2 separate regions of the Homo sapiens genome follow, and region 1 is linked to region 2. Evidence: fine-mapped expression QTL. A gene starts in region 2. The other region holds a variant in brackets. All regions are shown on one strand. Distances are from middle to middle.

Region 1 (3,024 bases), 38 kb after region 2:
CAAAGTGTTGGAATCACAAGCATAAGCCACTGTGCCTGGCCAAGAGGTGGTATCTTAATGTTTAGTATTGCCTTACAATATAGAGAGGCAGCATGGCTTAGGGGCCAGAACACCTAACAAATAGCTACAGACTTCAGGTAACTTATTCAGTTTTCATGATTTTTAAATATCTCCTTAGATAAATAGGGATAATACTATCAAGCTGATAGGGCTGGTTGTAAAGATTAAATGAGATAATGTAAAGAATAAAGCACAGTGCCTTGTCACATACTAGGCACCAAACAAATTTTAATTCTCTTCCTCCTAAAACAGAGAAGAGAAAAATGATAGGAGTGTAAGAGAAGAGGAAAATTAAATAAGTGGCATTGTGTTTACATAACTTTTAAAAAACATAAATTGATCTCTTGGAGTTTAAGTTATACTTGGATTTGCAAGCTAATAAGAAACCCTGAAGTGAAGGATTCTTCACTATTTCTTTTCTGTGAATTATTAACGTAAGTTAGAATTGTCTAATTTTTGATTTTTAAGTTAGTCTCCTTCCATAAAGCTTATTTATTTTTTGCTTCAAAAATGTGTTAATATTTTTCACCATTCCATTCAATATTAATTACATTTTGTACTCTTTAGGATGATGACTTTGAAGTTGTTTGCTGCTTTCATTTTAAGTACATTCATTTAGGTGAATTGCCAAGTACATTTATAGTTTTTATTTAATTTGAATAAGATCCTTTGCTCAAAAATGTTTGTGCTTTCATTGTATTGAATTTTGTTGTGTATTTTATTCTCAAGAAATTTTTTGGATTTCAGTAGTTTCACTTTTCAAAATTAAACAAATTTTTAATTTTACTTAATTCTGTTGTTATTTCTTCAGAGTGTTTCTCTCTGTCACTTAGGCTGGAGTGCAGTGGCGTGATCATGGCTCATTGTATTCACTAACTCCTGGGCTGAAGTGATCCTCCCACCTCAGCCTCTTGAGTAGCTAGAACTATGGGTGACACCACTCCTGGGAGATTTTTTATTTTTGTAGAGATGGGTCTCACTATGTTTCCCAGACTGGTCTTGAACTTCTGTCCTCAAGTGATCCTTCCACTTGGGCCTCCCAAAGTGATGAGATTATAGGCCTTTTTTCTTTTAAAATGTAGTTTATATAATTTACTATTTCTGTTCTTTGCAAGATACAAGTATCACTCTTTTTGAAAACCCTTGAGGTCTTGTGTGATTACATTAATAAT[A/T]TCTGTGAGTCAAGTTGATCAATATTAAGATAGAACATAACCATCATTATTATTGGTTACTGAGAATTCGTGGTATTTCGATTTAAGCCTTAGTTTTATAGCATTGTGTTAATTATGAGAAATTCATTTTAAAAACCTTGGCAGTGAAAGGTAGAAAAACAGGAAGTTAATTATGGGAAGCTTTTCTTTTTACTAACAAACACAACAATCAGTAGTACTACAGCTGAAGAGAGTACAACTGGTATATTTTAGTTAAACGAAAGTAGATTTTAGATACCATGATAATTGATTGGGTTTTCTCTTTATTTACACACTGATCTTTTCATTTGAAATACTGTCTCAAGCTTTCTAGGACACGGAATACAGAATTAAAATGTTGAATCAATCATAACGTGTCGTTGATAAATACGTACTTTCTTTTTAAAATAGGGGAATGTGTAGCACACTATTTTTCTACAATATTTTTTGTTATTAAGTTGTATAAGAATATCCTATAGAAACATTCCATTGTATCACACGTTAGAGAACAGTGTCTCTCTTGGTTAATTCTGACTGCTTGACCATTCTTAGGGAGACTGCAACAAGAATCAACCAACACAACATGTGGATATCTTTTTTAAAAAAACGTATAATTGGAATTTTCACAGGGCCCTACATGGCAGATATATATTTTTCTGTTTAGCTGCTTTATTTTCAGGCAGAACAGCACATCTTTCTTTATAGTGTTCCAATTGTCCATGTTTAAGAATGTTTTCCCTGAGTCCTAGAACAAGATGAGTTTATGGAACTGTGCAGTGCCACCTCCCCACCCTCTACCACCCCCCACCCGCTTTGCTTTTTAGTTTCAAGTGTTTATATGAAACCTACATCACAACATAACTGCTTTAGAAGCCTGGCTGCCACCTCTTCTGAAAGATTATGTTTCTTATAGTCTCTTATTTATGGATTATTATCAAGTAGAAAGCTTTGTCATTTTATAATATCCCCAGGAATAAAGCCCCTTGTAACTGGAAGCAACAGGAAGTACCAAGATAATACCTGATGTGTAGTATCGTTTTGTTTCCTTTCTGTTCCATAGATGACAAAGGCCTTGCTATCAAAGTACAGAAAAGGGATGACAGAGGAAGGTGGGGCTGGGGTTGGGAAGGTTTATTATTATTATGATTATTATTATTGTTTTTGAGACAGGGTCTGCTCCTTCACCCTGGTTGGAGTGCAGTGGTGCAATCATGGCTCACTGTAGCCTCAATAGCCTAGGCTTAAGTGATTCTTCTGCCTCAGCCTCGCAAGTAGCTAAGACCACAGACGCACACCACCATGCCAGGCTAAGTTTTGTATTTTTTTGTAGAGACGGAGTTTCCCTGTGTTGCCCATGCGCCACAATGCCCGACCAGGAGGTCTTTGTAGAAAACTCTGGATTCCTTTTTCTGGGAAGTATCTTCCTCTTGCTAATGGAAAAATGTTTAATCTTATGTATATAAAATTTCACATTGCAGAAAGTATGTTTTACTTGAATTATGAAATTTTTTGTGACTACAAAATAAATGAATTTTGGCTAACACTTTATTAAAAATAATTATGGGCCAGGTGTGGTGGTTCACACCTGCACTCCCAGTGCTTTGAGAGTGAGAGGACCTCTTGAGGCCAGGAGTTAGAAACATAGCAAGACCCTGTCTCTGCAAAAAGTTAAAAAGTTAGCTGGGTATGGTGGTGGGTGCCTGTAATCCCAGCTACTTGGGAGGCTGAAGCTGCAAGATCACTTGAGCCCAGGAGTTGGAGGCTGCAGAGAGCT
Region 2 (2,500 bases):
ATTTCTTTTGGCTTCATCTCCCAGCTCCCTAAACTTTTTTTTTTGTTTTTGTTTTCTTTGTGTGTGTGTGTGTGTGTGTGTGTGTGTGTGTGTATTTTAAACCTTTTATTGGACCCGTGGTCCAATTGAGGAAATAGGAAAAACCTGATACTGAAGGACTTTGGAAATAAAACAGGAAACATGAAGGGTGAGAAATTTATTCAGATTTCTTCATAATTCCCCCCAAAAGCTCCAACCACGTTGCCAGTCCTTGGGTGCTGCAGTTGGTCGGGGAGAGGGGCTGTGTGGAGGTCACCTTCTGGTAGACGGAGACCCGCTTTTCAGACTCTGTGGCGCAGCAGGCGGGCCAGGAACATTTGGGCCACTATTGCTCTTAGCCCTGCCGCGCCTGACTTTCTCTCCTCTACTTTCCTTCCGACCGTAGGGACAAGTGTGGGGATCCGCTTTGGGCTCCAAGGCCCTGCCCGCACTGGCAGCACCAAGCGGGTGTAGAATGACTGGAAGGAGCAGGGAAGGAAGATGGGTGTCAACTGTCCCGGCCAGTGGCTGCGTGCATGTGTGTGTGAACAGGGAAAAGGCCACCCTCTCCCATGTTTCTCCCGTCTCCTCGGTTCTCCTCGGAGACCCGCAGGGCTGCCCGAGGTAGCTCCGAGTTGCCCTGGGTCGCTGGGGCTTGGTCCGCATCCTCCTCCGCTAGTCCGCTCCCGCGTTCCACAGCGCCCCGCCGCTCGGTGTGCACGCCTGGGTGGGACACAGTAACAGCCCCTAAGCCGCCAACGCAAAAGCAAAAACAACCGTACACCGCATCGCAGTCGTAGCTCTTCTCCGCAAGGTAAGTTGTTTATTCGTCGCCGTTTTGGCGATCCTCCCTGGACAGCTGCGGCAGCGACGGCAGCTGCGCCGCGGGCGCCGAGCTCCCAGCCTCTTCCTTCCTCCGCCCTCTCAGGGCTGCCTCTCACCCCCACCCTCTTCCCTCCTATCCCCGCCTTCTCTCTTCTTGCCCTCTTGTGGGCCACGCACACACCCGGAGACACCCTCTGCACTTGGCTACTCACACTGCGGCTTAACCCAGCCGACAAGGCACGCTTGCCAAAGAGGCGCGGGTGTGTGTGTGCGGGGTCCGCGTTCGGAGGCCAAAGGAGGGTGGCGTGGTAGAGCCCTTCTCCTCCTGGCCGCGACGCCTTGCCCACTCTCCTGCCCTAATCTCGGCCTGCCAGCAAAAGTGACACCTGAGCAGGGACTGGTCCGTAGAGGCGGCAGGCCCGCTGGTCCGGCAGCTGGAAGAAAACAGAGCAAGGGGCGGGGACAATGAGGAGGAGCGGGAGGCGGGACAAGCGGGGAGGCCGCCACCTGGCACTGAGTGATGCGCCCTCTAGCCAATGAACGCGAGGAACTCCGGCGTCGGGGCGGGAGGTCGGGGGCGGGCTCAGTGGGGAGGAGGAGGCTGCAGGCGCGCAAGAGGCGGGGGCCGGGAGGAGGAAGGGGAGGAGGCGGAGGCGGGCGCGGTGTTGGCGGCGGCGGCGGCGGCGGAGGGGGGTAGGTTGTGCCCGGGACTGTGTCTGCCGAGCTCGGCGGCTGTGCCTTGGTGAGTGGAGGAGCGGCGCGGGGAGGCAGAGGCGAGCGCGGGCGATCGCGGCGGCGGGACGTCTCCGGCGGCCGCGGCACCAGCGGCGGCGCTCTGTGTGGAGAAGCAGGGGCAGCGGCAGCAGCAACAGCGGCAGCGGCAGCAGCAGCGGCAGCAGCGGCGGCCGCCTCTCCGCCGCCGGGGACGCCAAGGTGCGGCTGGTGGCACTGACATCGGCGGCCCTGCCTCTCCTCCCTCGCCCCCGGCCTTCCCCATGTGATCGGTCTTAATCCTGGCCGTGTGTGCGCGCGTGGGGCTCCATTCCGCGGTGCTGGGTCTCCGTGCCGGGGTGGGTGCTCGTGTGTGCGCTTCTCCTCCCCATCCCCCTTCCCCCAAGAATAAAAGAAGAACCGGGAGGCGTGCTCAGAAAATAAATAAATAACCACCACACACGCGCAGCCCGGAGCGAGTCGGCGGGGCTGGCGGCAGCGGCGGAGGAGGAGTGAAGGCGGCGGCGGCGGAGGAGGGACGCGCGGAAAAGGCAGCAACTTTAAAGCCAGCTCAGAGCCTAGACCTCCAGCCGAGCGGTTTGCAGCGCGGCGGCGGCGGCGGCGGCGGCGGCGTTGAGTGTCTGGCCCGCCGGTCCGGTCGGGGTGTGCAGTCGGACGGACGAGCAGCGCGTCGCTGTCCTCCGGCAGCTGGAGATGTCCGAGCCCAAGGCAATTGATCCCAAGTTGTCGACGACCGACAGGGTGGTGAAAGGTAAGCGGAGCGCCGCGGTGGCCTGGGTGCACCGTGTGCCGCAGGCGCCAGGGCAGCTTGCCTCGCCTCGCCTTTCCTCCCCTCCCCCGCCCCAGGTTCTCCTCTGTCCGCTCCAGCCGCGGACCTTCTAGGATATTGTGCAACCCGCGAACCCCGCGAACCCCCCGCCCCCGC

The links. PIP is the estimated chance that this variant, and not a neighbour inherited with it, causes the effect.
Region 1: its variant is fine-mapped to the expression of PPP3CA-DT in whole blood (INTERVAL, PIP above 0.99).

What each region holds. Positions count from the first base shown.
Region 1 is chr4:101,308,515-101,311,538 of GRCh38, reverse strand. All of the region lies in intron 1 of PPP3CA (protein phosphatase 3 catalytic subunit alpha), which reads left to right. Among named protein-coding and RNA genes, the nearest start is that of MIR1255A, 20 kb to the left of the region's middle. The variant A/T (reference allele first, on the strand shown) is at 1,233.
Region 2 is chr4:101,346,565-101,349,064 of GRCh38, reverse strand. It overlaps PPP3CA-DT (PPP3CA divergent transcript), which reads right to left and starts at 1,288. Exons shown (of 2, transcript NR_033874.1): 1 at 1,056-1,288; 2 at 182-741. PPP3CA (protein phosphatase 3 catalytic subunit alpha) reads left to right here and starts at 1,539. Exons shown (of 14, transcript NM_000944.5): 1 at 1,539-2,326. The coding sequence starts at 2,269. RefSeq lists silencers at 1,304-1,913, 2,384-2,500.